Linked DNA regions of Homo sapiens: regions 1, 2 and 3 are each reported to be linked to region 4. Evidence: microRNA targets listed by miRTarBase, many of them from high-throughput screens and not tested one by one. Region 4 holds a microRNA gene; each other region holds the end of a gene's coding sequence.
Evidence for each region. The annotated mature microRNA hsa-miR-4269 reads GCAGGCACAGACAGCCCUGGC and lies in region 4 at 1,829-1,849, shown strand. An mRNA with a match to its seed (bases 2 to 7 or 8) in the 3' UTR can be bound and repressed. Matches are read on the target gene's strand: a 7mer-m8 pairs with bases 2 to 8, a 7mer-A1 pairs with bases 2 to 7 and ends in A, and an 8mer does both.

Region 1: the mRNA of HSPA4 is a reported target of hsa-miR-4269. Seed matches in the 3' UTR shown: 8mer at 1,528-1,535.
Region 2: miRTarBase lists DUXA as a target of hsa-miR-4269. The part of its 3' UTR that is shown has no 7-base or 8-base seed match.
Region 3: miRTarBase lists CCL16 as a target of hsa-miR-4269. Seed matches in the 3' UTR shown: 8mer at 1,286-1,293.

What each region holds. Positions count from the first base shown.
Region 1 is chr5:133,103,921-133,107,023 of GRCh38, reverse strand. It overlaps HSPA4 (heat shock protein family A (Hsp70) member 4), which reads right to left. Exons shown (of 19, transcript NM_002154.4): 18 at 2,998-3,103; 19 at 575-2,791. The coding sequence ends at 2,588. Among named protein-coding and RNA genes, the nearest start is that of HSPA4, 53 kb to the right of the region's middle.
Region 2 is chr19:57,151,914-57,155,039 of GRCh38, forward strand. DUXA (double homeobox A) reads right to left here. Exons shown (of 6, transcript NM_001012729.2): 6 at 2,108-2,569. The coding sequence ends at 2,499. Among named protein-coding and RNA genes, the nearest start is that of ZIM3, 8.3 kb to the left of the region's middle.
Region 3 is chr17:35,974,850-35,977,965 of GRCh38, reverse strand. CCL16 (C-C motif chemokine ligand 16) reads left to right here. Exons shown (of 3, transcript NM_004590.4): 3 at 235-1,467. The coding sequence ends at 400. Among named protein-coding and RNA genes, the nearest start is that of CCL16, 5.1 kb to the left of the region's middle.
Region 4 is chr2:239,303,644-239,306,769 of GRCh38, forward strand. MIR4269 (microRNA 4269) reads left to right here and starts at 1,819; the gene lies at 1,819-1,902. The region is part of intron 2 of HDAC4 (histone deacetylase 4); the gene reads right to left.

The DNA of each region.
Region 1 (3,103 bases), not on the chromosome of region 4:
CCTGACCCCTCCTCGTCTAGACCCATGCCTTATCCAGTTAAGGTCTTTTTCACTGGCTTAGTGCCCTTTAAACACCCATCACCACCACATACATACACCAACACACATTCCACGCAGCCACACCACACATCCAGTGGCGCCAACTATTCTAGCACACTCTGGACCGCGCTGTTCTTTGGCCAGGTGTAAGTCCTAGCACTTACCTTTATGCCATAACCCCCGCCTTCTGCTAACAAAACCCTCAAAGTAAGGCCCAGTCACAGGAGCAAGACAAGGATTCCTAACACCAAAGGAACTGGGCCAAGACTCAACTGGAGAGTTTGAGTACAGAAAAATTAGGCAACATTTTCTCACAAAGTAGGCAGTGTGCTTCAGCTGTCACTCTTCAGACTGGAAGTCTTCAACGGATGTTAAGTGAAATTTAGCTCAGAGGGTTCCTACTCCTAGAGAACATTTTTATTGAAAACACACCCCCCGCCCCCACCCCACACACACATACACACAGACACACACACATACACACACACCCCCACACACACACCCAGCAGCCTTCATTATGGAATTAAGGAAACCATTCAAGTTTAAGACAGGTTTATTTTATTAGTTTTTCCTAAACTTGTCTCATGTTTACTGAATGATTTTCTTAGTGTAAGAACGTGACCTGGAGCTTTAACAAATCAGTTTGGATAACGCAACCTGGATAAATGCTTGTCTGTACACAAGCCATCAATTACCACTCTCTGTCCTGGCCTCCATGAAAATCCAATTGGTCTTAAAGCCTGTCTAAGCAGAGAGCAAGCAGACCACATCATCGTGTTTCAACTTGAAATTCACCCCCATCCCAGCACCCACACCCTTCCCCACACACACACACACACACACCAAAAAAAAAAAAAAAAAAAAAAAAAAAAAAAAAAAAAATTTTTTTTTTTTTAAGAAGAAATGGCCATTACGGTCTGGGCCAGTTGTAAAGGGTTGGCTTAATCCTGCAGCCAGCACTTTTAAAATAGCTACTGGCTTCACAGCAGGCCAGCTGGAACTCTTGAAGCATGACAGGTAGAGAACAGAGGATGTGCTAAGAACCTGGCCTTGTTGTGGTGCCTCGAGGCCTCCATGCATGCTTACACACCAACATAAGTATACTTTCCCCTTCCTCCTCCTAAGCAATTGTTCTCCATTGCACTTTAGAGCCTGTAACACTCAAACTTTTCAATGTTATCTAGAGATGGACAAACGCTTAATTCTAACTATGCAAGATAGCATCTTATTTCTAACAACATAGGCCAAAAGTAACAGAGAGGCACTCTGTTATACAGAATATCAATTTTTACAAAGATTCAAAACATTACCAACAAGCCCTGTAACAGTTTCTTAAAGCAGGTACCAACTCTGGCCTCAAACACAGGCTTCCCTTGGAGTTTCCAAAATGCCTCACTCCTGTCAACACTGCCCCAAAAAGCAGTCAGAGGAATGCTTTGGTATACCTGACATTGGCCACACAGTTAAGAATGAGGTGTTGTTATAACATCAGGCACCACACTTCTTTAACACTAATTTCAGACTCATCCAGTACAATCCAGTGTATCTTAGTTTTTTTTGCATCATCTGTCAGCTGCTTAACACGTACAAATTGGCAGGTTCATGACAGATATTAACACTTAACACACAAGTGATTGTGAATGAGCTAAAAAGAACTTTTAACTCTTGTTCTAGGAGTTCAAGCTATACCTCAAAATTATACAGAACATCTCCCACCTGAATAAACAGGCCAGGATACAAATCTTTACACCAAAATTAACAAGGATTTAATTCCTCAGTTAAATTTACCATGGCTATATCCAACAGTATATCTACCCAATTCTAATCTTCTGAAAATTATTTAGACCTTGATGCTTGGGGTATTCATGAACATACTTTCAGGAAGAGCCTCCAGGTTTAAAGCCCTCAGTTAACAACTTACTCTAGGCAAGGGGGTCTATTTTCCCAAGAGAAGTACATGGCATTTATAATGGGAGCCCTTTTATTGGGAGAGAGGGAAGAGAACACAGGTGAGGGTGAAGGTGAAATATGAAGAAGCTCAGAGCACACCTTTGTTCCTCTGCCGTGTTAATCCATGCCGTGCCATGCTCCAGCCCTCACAAAGAGGGGGACCCCATCCCCACACCAGGCAGGGAGCATTTAAAGCAATCTCCACAACAGATTTTTAAAGCATAATTAGAGCTCCTGCCATGTAAGTCATAATGAAAAGTCTGCTGGATAGCTAGAGCTGTAGCTATAGCTCAACTTTCCAAAACAAACTTATTCTTGTAGACACATGGTTAAACATAAAGGAGTGAAGCATAAGCTCAGTAAGACTAACTGGGCTTCTAAATAGTACCATTATGAAAAAGATACAATGCACTTAATTTCTGTATCTAACTATTTAGAAGTGAAAATGCTCCATACATTACCTATTTCCCCTCCCCGAAAATCCCCTAAAAACTGACTAAGAAATCTTCAGTATTCACTTGCGCTAGTTGATATTTAGAACAAAGTTGACAACTTAAAGCTTTATAATAGTCTGTTTTAATAGAAACAAGTGTTGGAATCAATCAATGTCCATTTCAGGAAGCTTCTTGTCTGAATCCGAAGGCACAGCTGTGTCTGTACCCTGCTCAGCAGCCTGGGGGCCTGGGTTGTCTCCTTGTCCATCCACTGGTCCATTCTGCTCTGCATTTTTTTGTTCCTCTTTTGGAGGTTCCACTTTGGGTTTGGGCTTTGAAATTATAGGGCTACAAGTACTTGTCAGCTCCTGGAATGGGTAAGACAGAAAACTGGTTTCTTATAAAATTAACAAATTTTACAAGCCATGCTAAACCCAAATCCGCCCTCTCCCACCACCCAATCCTCAACCTAGAAGCTAAAACACTATAATAAAGTTCCCTCCTAAGTGTCACTTGAGGACTATTAATAATAAGGCTGTCAAGAAAAGACTATTAAAAAAAAGTCTTAAATTACCTTAATTTTAGCTTCAATCTCTTTTGACTTGACAACTGGATCCATGGTCAAACTCTGCTTGTTCTGCAGATTTAGCTTGTTATTCATCCACTCCATTGCTTCATTT
Region 2 (3,126 bases), not on the chromosome of region 4:
TGCCAGACTCTCAAATTGCCACAAGGTAGCCTGGAAAGAACGCCACAGTCCAGAAGGAGCCTCGAAAGTGGTTTCATGAGGTGGAATTTACTCCTGGTGAAGATGCTGTGAACGCTGTTTAAACTACAACAGAGGATTTACAATATTGACGCACGTAGTTAAGAAAGCAGTGGCAGGGTTTGAGAGGATTGGCTCCAATTTTGAAAGAAGTTCTATTATGGGTAAAATGCTATCAAACAACATCTCATGTTCCAGAGAAATCTTTCGTGGAAGGAAGCGTCAGTTAATGTGGTAAATTTCATTGTTGTTTTAACAAATTGTTACAACCACTTCAATATTTAGCAACCACCACCCTTATCAGCCAGCAGCCAATGACATTGAGGCAAGACTCCTCACCAGCAAAAAAGATTACGACTCCCTGAAGGCTAAGATCATTATTAGTATTTTTAGCAATAAAGTATTTTTATATAATTTCTTTTTAAAAAATAATGGAGCTTCAAATAAGGGCATCAGGTATTTTTTCTTTTAATAGATGGGGTTTTGCCATGTTGTCCAGGCTGAGCTCAAGCAATCCACCTGCCTCGGCCTCCCAAAGTGCTGGGATTACAGGCGTGAGTCACCCCACCCAGCCAGCATCAAGTGTTTTAAAATTAAAGTATGTGCCTTGTTTCCTAGACATAACACCATTTTACACTTTATTAGACTACAGTGTAGTGTAGTGTAAATGTAACTTTTTTTTTTGAGAGGGAGTCTCGCTCGGCCACCCAGGCTGGAGTGCAGTGGCGCGATCTTGGCTCACTGCAAGCTCCGCCTCCCAGGTTCACGCCATTCTCCTGCCTCAGCCTCCCGAGTAGCTGGGACTACAGGCACCTGCTACCATGCCCGGCTAATTTTTTGTAATTTTTTTTTTTAGTAGAGACGGGGTTTCTCCACGTTAGCCAGGATGGTCTCGATCTCCTGACCTCGCGATCTGCCCGCCTCCGCCTCCCAAAGTGCTGGTATTACAGGCATGAGCCACCGCGCCCGGCCATAACTTCTTTTTTTAAATAGAGACAGGATCTCCCTATATTGCCCAGGTTGACCTCACAACTCCTGGTCTCAAGTGATCCTCCCCCTTCCATGTCCTAAAGTACTGGGATTATAGGCATGAGCCACCACACCCAGCCAATGTAACTTTATATTCACAAGGAAACAAAACCATTTTTGTGACTCACTTTATAGCAATATTTGCTTTATTGTGGTGGGCTGCAACCCAATCCACAATATCTTTGAGGTATGGCTGTACTTTCTAAGTGTTTCCTGAGTCAGCCTACTTTTTCTCCATTTTTTGGTCATTATTCTATCCGGTTTTTTTTTTGTTTTGTTTTGTTGTTGTTTGGAAACAAGAACTTGCTGTGTCGCCCAGGCTGGAGTGCAGTAGCACGATCATAGCTCACTGCAGCCTCACCATCCCTGTGTTCAAACCATTCTCCTGCCTCAGGCTCCTAAGTTGCTGAGACTACAGATGCACACTACCACACCTGGCTCATTTTTAAAAAATTGTTTGTAGAGATGGGGTCTCATCATGTTGCCCAGGTTGATCTGGAACTCCTGGCCTCAAGCAATCCTTCCGCCTCAGCCTTCTGAGTAGCCCTGATCAATCCATTGTTGAAGAATACATGGATGTTACTTTGCAGTCTGTCATCCTGAATTTGTGTTCACTTGACATTGCCTAATTATTAGTTTCAGCTTACCCACTTTTTGTCACTAACACGCAGAAGAGACTGTGGCCTTCTTACTGTATCATATCAGGAAGCATCTCACATTGGTTTGTGCCATTACTGGTGCAGTGACTTTCAGCCACTTGGTTAAGGTGGAGTTGGCCATATTTCTCTGCTGCAAAATTACTGATTTTCCTTTTGTAATTAATAAGTGTGTGTGAGTAGATTCTTTTGAGATGAAGTATATATCTTGTTCTTCCTTGAACTTAAAGGTTTTTTTTTAAGTGAAAGCAAATTTGTTAAGAAAGTAAAGGAATAAAAGAACGGCTACTCCATAGGCAGAGCAGTGTCACTTTAAGGTTATGACGTCAAGTGATTTTTGTACAAATCAATAATTACTGTGATGATTGAAAAAAGATTATTACCAAGTTTATTTTCATTGTCTCAAGGTCTTCTGAACTCTGGATCTAGGCTGTGTCAACAGGGTAGTGTGGTACCCCCTGTACCCGTCTCTGCCTCCTACAGTCCTTTTCATTTATTTTGTTTTTTTATAATAGAGGCAGAGTCTTGCTATATGTTGTCCAGGCTGGTTTCAAACTCCTGAGCTCAAGCAATCTTCCTGCCTTGGCCTCCCAAAGTAGTGGGATTACAAGTGTGACCCACCACATCTGGCCAAGTCCTTTACCATCTTCAGAAGGCTTAGCTTGCAGTTTCAGCAGAAGGATAGACTCCCAGGAAGACCGTGAGACAGATTTGGGGTCCAGTTGATATTATCAAGTACACTGAATTTGACTGTGTTCACCACGTTCTGGCTCCAGAGAAATGAGAGTCACTAGTGAAGTTGGTGCCATTTTGTGTATCTTCTGCACCTAAGGAGGAAAAAAGATAGAGGAAAGAATGTAAGAGATCAGCTTATATTCACAAACATGGACGTCAGCCTTTTCCCACCTTTTCTTTTTTTTTTTTTTTAGACGGAGTCTCACTTTGTCGCCCAGGCTGGAGTGCGGTGGCGCGATCTCGGCTCACTGCAAGCTCCGCCTCCCGGGTTCACGCCATGCTCCTGCCTCAGCCTCCCGAGTAGCTGGGACTACAGGCGCCCGCCACCACGCTCGGCTAATTGTTTGTATTTTTAGTAGAGACGGGGTTTCACCGTGTTAGCCAGGATGGTCTCGATCTCCTGACCTCGTGATCCGCCCACCTCGGCCTCCCAAAGTGCTGGGATTACAGGCGTGAGCCTCCATGCCCAGCCCCCACCTTTTCAATCCAATATGGAACCTACTACCTCCTGGGAAAGCCATGCCCCCGCTGCCCCTGGCAGACCACACCTGAGGATTCATTCCTCCTCTCACTCAATCACACCTTCAACAGAAGTGTATTGAGCGTTTCCTTTGTACCAGGCACTGGGGATACAACAGTGAATTTGTAT
Region 3 (3,116 bases), not on the chromosome of region 4:
GGTTCATTATGAAACCCAAGCTTGAGGGTCTAGGCTGAGTGGAGAAGGGACTGAGAGAAGGGATGGTAAGGTTCTGAGGCCAGAGAGAGAGGCTGTCTGAGGGAACCCAGCCAGGACAGGCCCAGGGAAGCTTTAAAGAACATAAGGTGAGCTCCATGTGAACCAGAGGTGGGGGTGGGCACCGGACTCCTGCCCGAGTCTGCAGCCCATGACGGTCTAATTCTGCCTCTGCAGCTTCGTCACCAAGAGGAACCGAGAAGTCTGCACCAACCCCAATGACGACTGGGTCCAAGAGTACATCAAGGATCCCAACCTACCTTTGCTGCCTACCAGGAACTTGTCCACGGTTAAAATTATTACAGCAAAGAATGGTCAACCCCAGCTCCTCAACTCCCAGTGATGACCAGGCTTTAGTGGAAGCCCTTGTTTACAGAAGAGAGGGGTAAACCTATGAAAACAGGGGAAGCCTTATTAGGCTGAAACTAGCCAGTCACATTGAGAGAAGCAGAACAATGATCAAAATAAAGGAGAAGTATTTCGAATATTTTCTCAATCTTAGGAGGAAATACCAAAGTTAAGGGACGTGGGCAGAGGTACGCTCTTTTATTTTTATATTTATATTTTTATTTTTTTGAGATAGGGTCTTACTCTGTCACCCAGGCTGGAGTGCAGTGGTGTGATCTTGGCTCACTTGATCTTGGCTCACTGTAACCTCCACCTCCCAGGCTCAAGTGATCCTCCCACCCCAGCCTCCCGAGTAGCTGGGACTACAGGCTTGCGCCACCACACCTGGCTAATTTTTGTATTTTTGGTAGAGACGGGATTCTACCATGTTGCCCAGGCTGGTCTCAAACTCGTGTGCCCAAGCAATCCACCTGCCTCAGCCTTCCAAAAGTGCTGGGATTACAGGCGTGAGCCACCACATCCGGCCAGTGCACTCTTAATACACAGAAAAATATATTTCACATCCTTCTCCTGCTCTCTTTCAATTCCTCACTTCACACCAGTACACAAGCCATTCTAAATACTTAGCCAGTTTCCAGCCTTCCAGATGATCTTTGCCCTCTGGGTCTTGACCCATTAAGAGCCCCATAGAACTCTTGATTTTTCCTGTCCATCTTTATGGATTTTTCTGGATCTATATTTTCTTCAATTATTCTTTCATTTTATAATGCAACTTTTTCATAGGAAGTCCGGATGGGAATATTCACATTAATCATTTTTGCAGAGACTTTGCTAGATCCTCTCATATTTTGTCTTCCTCAGGGTGGCAGGGGTACAGAGAGTGCCTGATTGGAAAAAAAAAAAAAAGAGAGAGAGAGAGAAGAAGAAGAAGAAGAGACACAAATCTCTACCTCCCATGTTAAGCTTTGCAGGACAGGGAAAGAAAGGGTATGAGACACGGCTAGGGGTAAACTCTTAGTCCAAAACCCAAACATGCAATAAATAAAACTCCCTTATTTGACAGCTTGATTCCTAACCTCCTGCTTTTTTTTCTGCTAGGGTGAAAGAAGCTTAATCTCAGTTTTTTTCAGGGGCTTCTCCACATTTCTTGAGACTTTTGTCAAGGTTGGGGGCCATTTATATTCAATCTTCCCCTCTGTCTCCAGCTTAACAGCAGACAGCTGACTCAGCTCGCTTGGATTCAACATTCTCCCAAAACGCTGTTGTGAAGACAAAACAAAAGCCAGGTAATTAAGACCGGATGGTTAAGACAGGTAATTAAGACCGGATGGTTAAGAGAAACAAATAAATGCAGTGAAGTGTCAAGCTGAAAACGGGCCAATGAATTGGATTCTGGTAAACTGACTCATAACTGCCCCCCAGTGGCCATGTTGTTAAAACCCGAGCCTCCTCCCTTGGCCGGCGCGGTGGCTCACGCCTGTAATCCCAGCACTTTGGGAGGCCGAGGGGGGCAGATCACGAGCTCAGGAGATCGAGCCCATCCTGGCTAACACGGTGAAACCCTGTCTCTACTAAAAATACAAAAAAATTAGCCGGGCGTGGTGGCGGGCGCCTGTAGTCCCAGCTACTCGGGAGGCTGAGGCAGGAGAATGGCATGAACCCAGGAGGCGGAGCTTGCAGTGAGCCGAGTTCGTGCCACTGCACTCCAGCCTGGGCGACAGAGAGAGACTCTTGTCTCAAAAAAAAAAAAAAAAAAAAAACGAGCTGCCTCCCCAGCCCAAGCTCATCTTCCCAGGATGGCCATCTCATCTAGCTGGCCAATCAGACTCTCAGAGAGATTTGAAATTTGGACCTGAGAAACTCAGTCTGGTTGCTGCTAGAGCAGAAGTGAGTTTCTGGCAGTGTCCCAAGGAAAGAGGTCTATGAACTTCTGTCCTGAGGTCCCTGGAACTGCCTCACTTCCTGCCCCAGCTCCAGGCTGGGAGCTTCAGCTGGTCTTTCAGTTCCATGAGATGTCCCAGCATCTTTCCTTTAAAAAAATTTCTAGGCCAGGCGCGATGGCTCACACTTGTAATCCCAGTTCTTTGGGAGGCCAAGGCGGGCAGATCACTTGAGGCCAGGAGTCTTGAGACCAGCCTGGACAACATGGCCCATCTCTACTAAAAATACAAAAATTAGCTGAGCATGGTGGTGGTCGCCTGTAATCCCAACCACTCAGATGGCTGAGGCATGAGAATCGCTTGAACCCAGGAGGCAGAGGTTGCAGTGAGCTGAGATCATGCCACTACACTCCAGCCTGGGCAACAGAGCGAGACTCCATCTCAATTTAAAAAAAAAATTCCTAAAGGGCCATGGTGGCAATTTAGCACCTCAGGAATAACTTATTGGTTTAGGTCAGTTCTTGGCGGGGGATGATGGATGTATGTGTGTTAAAATAGACATAACAGGGGCTGGGCAAGGTGGCTAACGCCTGTAATCCCAGCACTTCCAGAGTCTGAGGTGGGCGGATCACTTGAGGCCAGGAGTTCGAGACCAGCCTGGGCAGCATGGCGAAACCCCACTTCTACCAAAAATACAAAAAAAAAAAAAAAATTAGCCGAGCATGGTGGCCTGGGCCTATGGTCCCAGCTGCTCAGGAGGCTGAGGCAGGAGGATCCCTTGAGCTGGGGAGTCAGCTGAAATCGTGCCACTGCACTCCAGCCTGGGTGACA
Region 4 (3,126 bases):
TGCCTCAAGTAAAAAATTCAAGTCAGCCCTGATGCTGTCCATGTTTTTTGTAAAACTTGCTCACTTGTAAACAACGTCGGGCAGCAACTGCAGGCCTCACCCCTCACTCTTCAAAAGCGACTGCGACAGCTGCATCCCCCGTGCTCAACTGCAGGGCGCGGCACTCGCCTATGCTCTCATGAAGCCCCGTGCCAAGGGCTTCTCCGGGACCCCAGATACCCACCAGACCCTACAGGCCTGCCCCGTGGCCCTGGGAATGCTTGGCACCAAGGTCCCACTTCCCACCTCAGTCAAGCACCTGCCTCCCAGGCCTCACCAGTCTTCATCTCAGCCCGCCAGGTCCTCTCGAGCCCCTGGAGTGCCCTGTGAGCCACAGCTTATAAAGCAGATAGGACCAGCTCTGCATCAGACCCCTGTGTGCAGGCCCAGCTCCCCGACCCGTAAGCAGTTGACCTCAGACCAGCTGCTTAACCTCTCTGAGTCAGCTTTCTTACCTATAAATGAGGATAAAAGCAGGATATTCACAAAGCCCAGAGCTAGAATGCCTCAAGCAGTGTGAGCTCGGGGAAGAAGTCCACACAGGACACAAAGCCCAGAGCTGGGAAGGCCTCAAGCAGTGTGAGCTCGGGGGAAGGAGTCCACACAGGAGCAGTACCTGTTGCAATATTTTTATTACATGCTGGGAAGATTAAATGAGATAAGCCGTGTAAACACCAGGCACATAGAAAGCATGAAATGATACCAGGTGGTGGCATGGTGTTACTTTCATTATTAATAATTTGAAAAAGCAGATTAACAGCTCAGGCCCTGCTGAACTCAGAGCCCCCATGAGGATAGAGGCTATAACGTAACAGACATGAAACGTCCTGAAAGCTCCACGTGCAAAGTGAGTTGCTTATGCCTGCGTAAACTTCTTGTTCTTCAAAAGATATGCTGTTTTTAAAAGGGACTGACTGGTGAAAAAACCTCACACACAAGGCAGTGCCCCTTTGCCAGGTCCTGTAAACACTACCGTGTCCTGCCCTCGGCTCCTGGGGTCAGGAGCTCTCAACGAAGGTGTGACCCTTGTGCCCAGCGTGCAGACTCCAGGGGTAACTGCTTGCTTCTGAATCTCCTTAATGGAGCTTAGGAATGACACGCTATGGACGCTGACTGTCCAAGCAGAAACAAGGCCCCCTTGGGGGCTTTCTAAAGTTAGTAAATACATGTATATATAATATATATACACACACATAGGAGAACGCGAATGACTGGGCACCCAGGGTCTCTGTGGGGAGCCACATGGCCCAGCAGAGAACACAGTTAGCATCACAGAGTCCAGCCGTCCCCTCCCCACGTCAATAGGACAGTCCCGCGCTTTCTTCCAGCCGGCCTGGGGCATGTCAGGAGGCAGGGCCTGTACTGCAGGCTCTGTGTTCTTAGACAGCCTTTGCAGGGGGCAGAGGTGCCCACTGCCACATGGGCACACACAGGAGGCTCACCACGTTTCTTCAAATGCAGATGACAAAGCAGCTTGAGTAACACAAATACGGCCACACTCATCTGAGGATTGCTGCTGTGTTTTCTAACTGCATGGCCATGACCAAGCAGTCGGTTTTCATCCAGGTTGGTAGTCAGGTTTCTGAAAGCGATGGCAGTCGCCTCAGGGCTGACACGGGGAGTCTGCTTGGCACACCTTCACCCTCGTTACATTTTCTGGACAATGGTAGGGAACATTCCTTACTCCGCTGGCCTGTCAGCTTGGCTAAGCCTGGTGCAAGTGGCTCGCTGTGGGTCCGCGGCTCCATTACGGGGGAGTCTGGGTCATCTGTGAGCCCAACAGCGCCCTGCAGGCACAGACAGCCCTGGCTTCTGCCTCTTTCTTTGTGGAAGCCACTCTGTCAGGCCTGGGATGGAGGGGCAAGAGGCTTTCAAATTTTTCCTTATTGTTGTATATTTTTTAAAAAACTATTTATTTTAATGGTGAAATAAGTTCTAAAAGTTTCTGGACTTGTAGGTAAATGAATAAGAACTGAGTGTGGTTTTTAATCATGTTCACATTATTGGTGACGGTGCGGCTTAGTTTCATTTAGTGACTAAATTCTAGCCATCCCTAGACTGATGGCCACGAAACGTGTATTTCGAGTTGAAATACATTTATTTAACACACATGCACACACAATTACACGTGCACACAGGAAGCTTTAGCAAGTACTTCTCTGACCCCATTCCCTAAACACGACTGGGAACGAGGCTGCCGCTGCCCACACGGGCCCTGAATCTGACAGCATTCAAGGAGACCACGGAGGAACCGTGACAAAGAGCTGGTAGCCACCGGCATTTCAGATGAATGCAGCACCCTGGGCAAGCACAGTGTCTGCGTCTCCCCCACGCTGAAATGATTCCTAGTGTCCTAGACTGCCTGGCTTCACATGAGAAACACTCTGCTTAAGTAACTACTTCATCACTCAAGGTCCCAAAGAATGCTGCCCACCTCGGTCAGCCTTGCTTCTAGAAACCGAGGATTCTGGGTTTGGAGGCACCCCAGCTCTTCCCTGGGAAGTCATTTTCCTGAATAGATCTGACTTCCACTTATTTTCCTATCATTTCCCATCTTTTCATACATTTAGAAGGCAAAAAAAGTTCATCTTTCTAGTGATTCCAGGAGCTCCCTGGCCCATCCACAGGTGGGTGAGCTCCCACCCAGGTCCAGCAAGTCAGTGACTACAACAGAGGACACAGCCTTCCAGTGGACACGAGGACCTCAGAGGCCACCTGGCCAGGCCCCATCCACGGATGTGTCCCTGCCCAGGTGCCAGCAAGGACTGACTAATACCTGACCCAGGGCCAAGCTATCCTGTGTCCCATACTCGGCCCGTAGAGCCATCAAATCATCTGGGCCCCGACACACTTGTTTCGTACCTTTCCCGGTCATGATACAAAACATAAGCTGGAAAGGGTGCTCTTCACCTAAACAAGGTCAAACACAGGCACTACATCAGGCACCCCATGTTCCCCCTATATGCCCCCCACACTGCCCAGGTGATGGCAGAACCCAGGTCCTCGGGCGCAGAGCATCCAGGGCCCAGGGCCCACAGGGTTTTACATGGTGAAAAGGGGTAGGGGGTGAATGCTAAGGGGCGAAGG